Linked DNA regions of Homo sapiens. The protein of the gene in region 2 interacts with the protein of the main gene of each other region in a pairwise test. Each region holds a gene or a part of one and is shown on either strand. Other genes may lie near its edges.

Evidence for each region.
Region 1: the proteins of DR1 (region 2) and RNF34 interact in binary tests that used the Homo sapiens proteins (3 or more experiments, as listed by UniProt).
Region 3: the proteins of DR1 (region 2) and NFYC interact in binary tests that used the Homo sapiens proteins (3 or more experiments, as listed by UniProt).

The regions. Positions count from the first base shown.
Region 1 is NC_000012.12:121,406,464-121,410,117, reverse strand, and holds part of RNF34 (E3 ubiquitin-protein ligase RNF34), read right to left. Parts: intron 1,658-3,654; exon of another isoform or gene 1,643-1,657; coding exon of another isoform or gene 1,409-1,642; intron 1-1,408. Other genes in the region: KDM2B (lysine-specific demethylase 2B), read left to right, coding at 1,409-1,642. UniProt on the Homo sapiens protein: E3 ubiquitin-protein ligase that regulates several biological processes through the ubiquitin-mediated proteasomal degradation of various target proteins.
Region 2 is NC_000001.11:93,348,879-93,352,532, forward strand, and holds part of DR1 (protein Dr1), read left to right. Parts: intron 1-3,654. UniProt on the Homo sapiens protein: The association of the DR1/DRAP1 heterodimer with TBP results in a functional repression of both activated and basal transcription of class II genes.
Region 3 is NC_000001.11:40,698,104-40,701,757, reverse strand, and holds part of NFYC (nuclear transcription factor Y subunit gamma), read right to left. Parts: intron 1-3,654. UniProt on the Homo sapiens protein: Component of the sequence-specific heterotrimeric transcription factor (NF-Y) which specifically recognizes a 5'-CCAAT-3' box motif found in the promoters of its target genes.

The DNA.
Region 1 (3,654 bases), on a different chromosome or scaffold from region 2:
CGATGGCACGATCTTGGCTCACCGCAACCTCTACCTCCCAGGTTCAACCGATTCTGCTGCCTCAGCCTCCTAGTAGCTGGGATTACAGGCATCTGCCACCATGCCCGGCTAATTTTGTATTTTTAGTAGAGGCAGGGTTTCTCCATGTTGGTCAGGCTGGTCTCGAACTCCTGACCTCAGATGATCCGCCCGCCTCGGCTTCCCAAAGTGCTGGGATTACAGGTATGAGCCACCACGCCTGGCCATGAACATAATTTCTTTACATTCATTTTAGCACTGAAGTGCCAGGTAACACCCACCCCCGCTGCCCTTCAGTGAAACAGGTGTTTTAGTCCTGTACCTTCGTAGCTGCTGTCAGTACTTCTTGCTAAGGAATTGCCTAGGGTTGTGAAACTGCCCTTAAGAGAATGGTTTTCAGCCTTGGCTGCATGTTGGACTCACCAGGCAAGTCTTTAAAAATACTGATTCCTGGGGTCCCAGGCCCAGAGGTTCTGATTTCACTGGTCTGTGGTGCAGCCTGGGCACCAGAATTTTTTTGAAAACTCCCTGGGTAATTCTGATATACAGGCCAGGTTAAAAGCTTAAGACCTGCTCAGTCAAAGGGAAGATGTCTTCTTCCTGCCTACACTGTTTCAGCTGGGACATCACCCTCCACAAATTCCTGAGTGGAAAGGGCTGTGGTTACTTTGGAAGCCTGTGGCCCTAGAGTTCTGGAACTAATGCCTCGGCAACATACTCCCCAAGACCTGTCTACATGTTTTTCTGTTGTGGGATATGTAGTATTTTGCATCCCACTTTGGTTTTACCCAATCCTTTAAGAAAGGGTCAGCTAAGTTTTGGCCAAGTGTTGTGGTCCATGCCTATAATCCCAGCAGTTTGGGAGGCCGAGGCCAGCAGGTCACCTGAGGACAGGAGTTTGAGACCAGCCTGGCCAACATGGTAAAACCCCGTCTCTACTAAAAATACAAAAATTAGCCGGGCATGGTGGTGCACGCCTGTGGTCCAAGCTACTCGAGAGGCTGAGGCAGGAGAATCGTTTGAACCTGGGAGGTGGAGGTTGCAGTGAGCAGATATCACGCCACTGTACCACTGCACTCCAGCCTGGGTGACCGAGCAAGACTCCATCTCAAAAAAAAAAAGAAAGGGTCACCTGAGTTTTTAACAATCTGATTCTTCAATGAATCCCTTTCCTTTTTACCACAGATTGGCCTGTAACTTTTGCTGGACTTTGGTGCTCTCCTTGATTTTATTTGCTCTTTGCCTTTGGGCCCCAACTTTTATTTCCCACCTTAACTCCTCTGCACGTTTTCTTGTGTGAAATCTCCCAATATGAGGAGAAAGTCAGTGATTTCTGGGTCTATCAAAAGCAGCCATTGTTCAAAGTGTTTTTGTCCTTCTTCACCTCCAGGATGAAGAATCCATCCAGAAGATAAATCCTTCCAAGCCTGGACTCCATCTACCTGGCTCTCCTTTAGTATGTTTCATCTTCCTGTACTTTCTCATAAATTTCAGAAATTTATTCTGCATGCCTCCTCAGGGCAAAGGCATCTCTACCTACAACTGTCACCTTGACACTCACCTAACAGTGCTTGAAGTGTCCTATACTGATCTTTCCCCTCTTAAATCTGTACACATTTTCTAGTTTTTATTTATTTTTATTTTTATTTTTATTTTTTAGACAGAGTTTCACTCTTGTTACCCAGGCTGGAGTGCGGTGGTATGATCTTGGCTCACTGCAACCTCTGCCTCTTGAGTTCAAGTGATTCTTGTGCCTCAGCCTCCCAAGTAGCTGGGATTACAAGTGCCTGCCATCACACCCTGGTAATTTTTTGTATTTTTAGTAGAGACGGGGTTTCACCATGTTGGCCAGGCTGGTCTCGAACTCCTGACCTCAGGTGATCTGCCTGCCTCAGCCTCCCAAAGTGTTGGGATTACAGGCGTGAGCCACCACACCTGGCCATTTATTTTTATTTTTTTAGAGACGGGGTCTTGATATGCTGCCCAGGCTGATCTCAAACTCCAGGGCTCAAGGGATCCTTCTGCTTCAGCCTCCCAAATCACTGGGATTACAGGCATGAGCTACCACGCTTGGCCCACATTTTCTGTTATGACTTGACAGAACCTATAAAAGCAATTGGAGAACTATTTAAAAGACAATTTCCCCAAGGGTTTATTGAATCTGAGCTCTTACAGTGGAGAGGGGGACAAGGGATGGGGGGAACATATGCCAATCTATTTTCTGAGCTCTTCACACTCTGCCTCTGTTATATTTCCTTGGAACCCAGTTACCATATCCGGTAGGGTCATAACCAACAAGGATCCCTCTTCTGCACCCTCCTTTTAAAAGCTTTAGAGACCTAAGTTCATGTTCTTTCCTGTTCCATTTCTGTCTTCCCTATACTTTAAGATCTTCCTCCAGTTAAATTAGCCTGTATTCCTTTATTTTTCTTTTATTCATTCATTGCTTCCATACTGATAGTAAGATTGAAGCATCTTCTACAAACCACTCCATTTCCTCCTAGATTTTGAGAAAACTCAATTCCTGGAAAGACAGCATACTAGGCGTAGCCCTTGGGCTTCCGAATTTGCAGTCAGTTCACTGAGTTGTTGTATACTAGGCATATGCCTTTGGCTTCTGCATTTGCAGTCAATTCACTGAGTTGTTGTATACTAGGCATACCCCCACCTCTGGCTTCTGACAGTATACTAGGCATACCCTTTTGGCTTCTGAATTTGCAGTCAATTCACTGGCCTCAATTCCAAAGTGGTGCCTTCTTTATGGAAGGGTCACCATCCATTATTTGTTCATTGGGGGAAAAAAACCCTACAGTTACTCCTCCGTGAATAAAGCCCAAAGCCAGATCTCTGAAAAGTCTGGAACTTTCAAAATGCAAGCCATGATCTGGGCTTTCATGACCTACTTGGGGACCTTAGTTGGCAGCAAAACTCCATGGGTTATACCACATGCATCCAAGTGGTATGTAAGAAGTATAACCCTTTTTCTAACAGTTTAGAAAGAACAATAATCTGGGGGGAGGGGGAAGGAGGGAGGAAAGGAACAAGGGGTGAAAAACTAACTGTTGGGTACTGTGTTCACTACCTGCTGGCGGGACCAACTGTACCCCAAACTTTAGCGTCACTCAATATACCCATGTAACAAGTCTGTACGTGTACCCCCAAATCTAAAAGTTGAAATTATATTTTTAAAAAAGAACGATAATCGTGAAGATAGCTAAATTTCCTCTCTTGACCATGAATGTAGTTTAAAACAACATAGAGAATAAGAGAATGAGGCAACTGTCTGCCTATGCCTAGCACAAAACTCCAAGCTCAGAGAATTCACCTGTGTTTGGAGTTTATTTTCTAGTCATCAGTGATTACTAAAAATAAATGACTTGTTCTTGATAGTCTAATCCCTTTCCTACCCACTCTCTTAAGCCAAAGCTGCTCTCAGTAGAGCCACCATAGGACCATGGTCTGCCTGGCTTATATCAGTTAAAAACCAGGTATCGTATTTAAAAACTTAACACCAGCCCGGCGCGGTGGCTCACGCCTGTAATCCTAGCACTTTGGGAGGCTGAAGTGGGCGGATTGCTTGAGCTCAGGAGTTCGAGACCAGCGTGGGCAACGTGGTGAAACGCCATCTCTACTGAA
Region 2 (3,654 bases):
CAAAGAAGTTTTGTTTTGAGAGATTACATTTTTAAAGAAATTCTTAAGGTTTATATGTTTTAGGTGTTTGAAGTGTGTGCCTATACACTAATCATAATAGGACATTTTTATACTTTTCTGTCAGCATTGATTAGGAATGTAGAATATATCCAAATGGAATAAGTAATGTACATTTTAAAGTGATATGATTCTCACATGTTGAAGTTTGGGTTTTTAGTGATAAGTTTAATGAATTAGACTTTGCTTCAGGACATTTCACTTGTTCATTTCTCACCTTGCTTTATCTTGTCTGAGCAAATTAAGCATTCTGAGATAGTTCTGTAAAATGCAAGTTAAAGTTGAACTAATTTTATCACCAGTATATCTATGAAATAACTTATTTAAAAAAATTTTTTTTTCTGTTTTGCTTATTTTGAGTTTAAGAAAGTAGACTTGGTATTGAAGACCATAGATACATGAATAGAGGGAGTTCTAAGCTATAAAAGGTGTTCCTATTTTGTTGCAGTTTTTTGTGAACACGTATTCTTGAATGAGTTCTAACATGTTCTGTTGCCTTATAGAAAGAATTGACATTGAGAGTCAGCTGTAAGTTCCGCACTGAGAATTCTTTAACCTTAGGGAAATCTTTTAACTAAGGTTTTCTTATTTGTGTACAAATAATACTTGATTTCAGGTATTACTTGTAATTTTTGAGAATTAGTCAGGGGTTGAGAACCTTACATGAAATATCTCCCCTCACATTTATGAGAATTGTAACTGAAAGTAGTAAAAGTTTGAAAGAGTATCTGAGAATTTGCGTCTTCAGCTGTTGAGTTGCTCCAAGCTGTCTTACGTTGAAGGAATTTTTAAAAAATTCCTGTCCTTCTCACACTAGTAGCTTTGTAAGATAACATGAAAATAGATCACTGGAAAAGATGAGGGAAAGACCAACACTCAATTTTTTACTATTTGATTCAATAGACATAAAATTATTTTGTCAAATTGCAATGAAGGTACTTAAATGCTTTGAATTTCCATACTTAACTAATGTTAACCATTAGGAGCAGTTTTGGCATAAGTCCATGGACCACAGTTTGAGAACCTTTGCTCTAAAGCCTAAACCAGTCTCTGTTGGAAAGTGGACGTAAGTAGTAAATAATCGTTTATACAGATATTTTTTCCGAAGGGACACATCTAATTTGCACTGCAAAATTTATCACATAATCAAATGCTTTTCAAGTTAGGATTTTATTAATACTTTTCTTTAAATTAATATATCTTTTATTTCTGTTTTCCTTCTGCCACCCCACAATTACTTATTGAATACTACCAATTATTTGGCATCATGCTAGGTACTACTAAGGATATTAAGATAAATGATACTCAATTCCTTCTCTGCCATTAGTCTCTCATTGTTGTCCAAGATTTCCAGTAGTGATACCATGGAGGACATGGTTCTTAAGGGGTTTCAGAAACCTTTGCCAGGCTAATGAGCCAAGAAGTCACTTTGGCCTACATCCTCTTAATGTATTTTATGTGAAATACATTAGTTGCTTCCTTCCCACAAACAAAAGAAAATGGAGAAATTAGAGAATGCTGATTTATATAGTATTTAAAAGGTACTGTATATCACGTAATTTTACAAATGAAAAACATGTTTTATGCATATGAAGTATAAAGTGAGTCACATAAATTCATGTTATGACAGAACCTTTCAGGAGTACATCACTTTGTAAAATAAGATAAGCCTATATGAAGATTATTGTTGCTTCAAAGAAATTTTTACTTCTTTTTTGTTTTTTTAATAGCTGTCTTGTTAACATCTGTCTTTTAAGCTGAAAAATGTGCAAAGTATTTTTTCCCCTAATGTACACCATGGACTTTTCTGGTTGTAGTTTTGAGATACACGGCATAGGGTGACAGATAGTGATGTGTGTTAATTTTACTCACAAATTTTTAAAAAAATATTTTTCTGTTTTGGAAAGATGAGATCCTTAGAAATAGGGCCATGAATAGTCCATAAGGTCTCTGTACAAATTAGAAAAAGGCACTCCTTCCTTAAAAAGCATTACTACTGTCTGCCAGAAAAAGTATCACAGTAAACATACGAATTTATGGTATTTACAATAAGAATGGCCCTCTAGTATGTTGTGTACTGAACAACCTACCTAACTGTATGTAAATGGTGGCCCTGCTTGGGAGCCATTTCCTTTATCCTTTAATATTCTCTTTGTGTAAAATGGGAATGATAACTAATACATGATAGCAAATAATGTAAAATATCTCTCTATTTAGAAGGTATTATGTCCAGTTATTGATATCTGTTAGCCCAATGTGTTTAAAATTAAAGTCAATGAAATTTTTGAAATTAAATTTATGGCTGCTCCTTTTCAACCATTTTGTTGAGAGTATAGTTTTTACGTATGGCAACTCTTTGAATAATATTAAATATTAACCTTGGACCTACTTGAAAGCAGTGTTCTCAGCCTTAAATGTTTTTAAAGGTAGTTATATATTTAAAAAAAATTCTTAATCCAAGCCCTCCATGGTTAAAAATAGCTTGGATTGGATTTTCTTTCTTTTTTTTTTTTTTTTTTTTTTTGAGACAGAGTCACGCTGTCAGGCTGGAGTGCAGTGGTGTGACCTCGGCTCTCTACAAGCTCTGCCTCCCGGGTTCAAGCAATTCTCATGCCTTAGCCTCCTGAGTAGCTGGGATTACAGGCGTGTGCCACCACGCCTGGCTAATTTTTCTGTTTTTTGTAGAGACAATGTGTTGCCATGTGGGCCAGGCTTGTCTCTAACTCCTGACTTCAAGTAATCCCCGTGCCTTGGCCTCCCAGAGTGCTGGGATTACAGGCATGAGCCACCATGGTCGGCTGGCTTGGATATCCTTAATGTCTAGTATAGTAACTATGGTATTTTGAAGGGTTGTCTCTCCATTGTGTTGATTTGTTAATTTTATAAATTTGATATTTTATAAATATGCTTGTCCAGCTTGTATTTAAATATGATATTGTATAGCTATACATTTATTTAGGTCCTGTACACTTATGAGGGTACTCTTTTAAATTTAAAATAAAAAATACAGATGAGAAATACATAGTCTGAGTTGGTTAAGTGATTCTTAGGTGCTAGACACTGTCAAACGCCTTATATTAATTACCTGTTGATTCCTACAACCCTAAAACTAATAACAATATGATATTTATTGCTTCATTTTTAATTTTTAAGAGGCAGGGTCTTGCTTTCTCACCCAGGTTGGAGTGCAGTGCCACAGTCATAGTTTACTGTGGCCTCAAACTCCTGGGCACAAGCGATCTTCCTGCCTCAGCCTCCCGTGTAGCTGGGACTACAGGCGCCTGCCACCACGCCGGCCAATTTTTTTTGTATTTTTAGTAGAGACAGGGTTTCACCCTGTTAGCCAGGATGGTCTCGATTTCCTGACCTCATGATCTGCCTGCCTTGGTCTCCCAAAGTGCTGGGATTATAGGCGTGAGCCACCGTGCCTGGCCATGTTGGTGAATTTGATATACAGAACTTAGAATAATGCCTTTCTGAAGTTTTTAGGGAGGTCAGGGGAAGTGAGTTAACTTAATAATAGGACAGTACTATGCTTTTTGGCATCAGATTATTTCTAAAGAAGGTTGATGAAAACAGCTTAACATTTGAAATACT
Region 3 (3,654 bases), about 53 Mb from region 2:
ATAAGCTCTGGGGATTCTAAACAAGACACAGTTCCTGTCCTTAAAGAGATTAAAGTCTACTGTAACAAACAGGAAAGTTAAAATAGGCAATCATGATGCTGTACATTAAGAGTTACAACACATGCAAATGCAAAATGCTATGGGAGGACATAAGCATAGCACCTAACCCAGGGCTTACGTAAGTTTTAGGCTGGTCAGAGAAAGCTTCTTAGGAGAATTAAAATCCTAAGAATAAAAACCAAGATAGACAAAGTGAACTGCATGTGCAAAGGCCTGAAGCTGACAGAAAGTATTACATTCCTGTTTGGTATAGCAGCAGCCCAGAAGCAAGAAGCTAGAAGTAGAGTTAGAAAGGTAGGCCGGGCGCAGTGGCTCATGCCTTTAATCCCAGCACTTTGGGAGGCCAACTGAAGTCAGGAGTTTGAGACCAGCCTGGCCAACGTGGTGAAACCCCATCTCTACTAAAATACAAAAATTAGCCAGGCATGGTGGCAGGCACCTGTAATCCCAGCTACTCAGGAGGCTGAGGCAGGAGAATCCCTTGGAGGCAGGAGAATCCCTTGTACCCAGGAGGCAGAGGTTGCAGTGAGCCAAGATTGCACCAATGCACTCCAGCCTGGGTGACAGGGCGAGACTCTCTCTCAAAAAAAAGAAAGGTATACAGGGTTGGACAAAGCTAATATACTAAAACTTTATTCTAAGGACAATGATAAGGAACTAATGCGTCTTAAACATTGGACTGGCACAATCAGTCCCACGTTTAAAGTGTAATTCTGATTTTCCCAGCCCCATGTTTAAGACTGTTTAGTTCCTTACCATTGGGTACAGTGTGGAGAATAAGCTGGAGAAGGGGACACAGTGGGAGGATGGCAGCACTCTAGACCACTAACGTGGAAAACAGGATGCTAAAGTTATCTGGTGACTGGATGCAGTAGTGAAGACACTGAGTTCAAGACCAGCCTGGACAACAAAGCAAATAATTCAGAATTTGTCATCTCCTTAACGTCCATTTATTAGTTTATTAAAAATTAAAAAATAAAACAAATTTTTTTGAATTCAAGACCAGCCTTGAACCTCATAGAGTGAGACTCCATCTCAAAAAATAAAAAATAAGCCAGGTACGGTAGCTTACACCTGTAATCCCAACACTCTGGGAGGCCAAGGTGGGAGGATCACTTGAACTGAAGAATTTGGGACTAGCCTGGACAACATAGCAAGACCTCCTCACTACTAACAATAAAAAAATTAGCTGGGCAGGCATGGTACTACATCCCTGTAGTCCCAGCTACTCAGGAAGCTGAGGCAAGAGGATGACTTGAACCCAGAAGTTTGAGGTTGCATTGAGCTATGATCACACCACCTCACTCCAGCGTGGGCAAGAAAGTGAGACCCCATCTCAAAAAAATTAATTAAAGTAAAATAAAAAATAAAGAAGATTCAAAAATCACTAAGACCCAGTGGTTAATAAGGCATGTAGAATAACAACACTGTGCTTGATAAAAAGCATGTACTCAAAAAATGGTACCTGCTACTATTATTATTGTTATTGGGCATTGGATTAGATGACCTTTGAAATCACATTCATCCTTAAGAGTCTACGTTACCTTGAAGATGTATCTTGTTCTCAGAAAAGTCCTTTCCCACGATTACCAAGCTATCTTATACAAAATGATTCATTTTTTTATTCATAGACTACACCAGAACTGCTCAACTGGGCTCCACTACACACCAGTCATAGCATGAAACGTTTATTAGGTGTTCTCACAAACAGCGGTCCATGACCAAGTAAGTCTGAGTAACACCGCGTAATGTATCTTCCCTCTTGAAGGGTCATAGGCAAATAAGCACCAAGGCTCTGAATAATAATTCTGCAGTAAAGAAAGGCATTTCACTTTGGCCATTTTTTGTCAAGGATCCTCTTTTTATCCCCAAAGGACACTGATTAGCACTACACAGAACTAATGTTCAGTGGAAGAGCTTGGGAAATGCTACTCTAAACCAACTTACAAATTTTAGTGGAGTGAAAAGACTATAGGCAACTGTATTCTGATAACCTTCCAAAATGGTTAGAGTTTTACACACATTATGGCGTTTTCCTTTCTAACTTAGTACTACTGAAAATGACATTAAATACCACCATAAATAGCAATCCTTTGCCTCCTAAGTGATTGCCAACCAAGCATTCTTGGCTTCTTAAAAGGCCCCAACTTCGTCATTTCATAATGAGCAAATTCTATGCTACTTACTTTCAGGGTACAGTAATAATTTTTAAAACAGTTTAAAATGACAAGGATGTCAACTGTGCAGATAATGTGTACTTTATTAGCCCCTTCTCTCTTCTCTTTTAAAAGGAACAGATCATGCCAGTGTCAAAGGGATATATCTTCTTAACACTGGGCAAAGAATCTCAACTTCATAGAGATTACTGGACAGTTTACAGCTCTGGAGGCCAAGGGCAACAGTAATTTGGGATTGTGAAAACCTTCAGTACTTCAGATTTAAGCCAATGACATGATACAAAATATTCTATACTCTAACATCATTTCCTATGAGTCATCTCATTCCTTTTTTGGTTTTGTTTTGTTTTTTTTTGGAGACAGTCTCACCCTGTCGTCAAGGCTGGAGTGCAATAGAGGCGCGATCTCGGCTCACTGCAACCTCTGCCTCCCGGATTCAAGCGATTCTCCTGCCTCAGCCTCCCGAGTAGCTGGGGTTACAGAGGCCCACCACCACGCCCAGCTAATTTTTTGTATCTTTAGTAGAGATGGGATTTCACCATGTTGGCCAGGCTGGTCTTAAACTCCTGACCTCATGATCTGCCCGCCTCAGCCTCCCAAAGTGCTGGGATTACAGGTGTGAGCCACGGCGCCCGGCCCATCTCATTCCTCTTATTAAAACACTTTGAAACACTGCTCAAGATCACTATTTATGGTTCATACTCATGAATGTATTTAAGAATAGGACAATTATTGAATCTTATTAAGAATATACAATTGACTTTAACACTTGAACCCGGGAGGCAAAGGATATACTATTGGCTTTAAATGAAGGGTATTCAGGCTGGGCGCAGTGGAGGCTGAGGCAGGCAGATCACCTGAGGTCAGCAGTTCGTGACCAGCCTGGCCAACAAGATGAGACCCTGTCTCTACAAAATATACAAAAATTAGCCAGGTGTGGTGGCACGCACCTGTAGTCCCAAGCTACTCAGGAGGCTGAGGCAGGAGAATCGTCTGAACCCAAAAGGCAGAGGTTGCAGTGAGCCGAGGTCATGTCACTGCACTCCAGCCTGGGCGACAGAGCAAGACTCCAGCAAATAAATAAATGAATGAATGGCATTCATTTAAATAGGACACCTTATATATAGTACCTTGAACGTGAATTTTTTTTTTTTTTTCAAAGAGGGAATCCCGTTCTGTCACCCAGGCTGGAGTGCAGGGGCATGATCTCAGCTCACTGCAGCCTCCGCCTCTGGGTTCGAGCGATTCTCCTGCCTCAGCCTCCTGAGTAGCTGGGACTACAGGTGCCTGCCACCATGCCTGGCTAATTTTTGTATTTTTAGTAGAAACGGAGTTTCACCATATTGGCCAGGCTGGTCACAAACTCTTGACTTCAGGTGATCTGCCAGCCTCGTCCTCCCAAAGTGCTGGGATTACA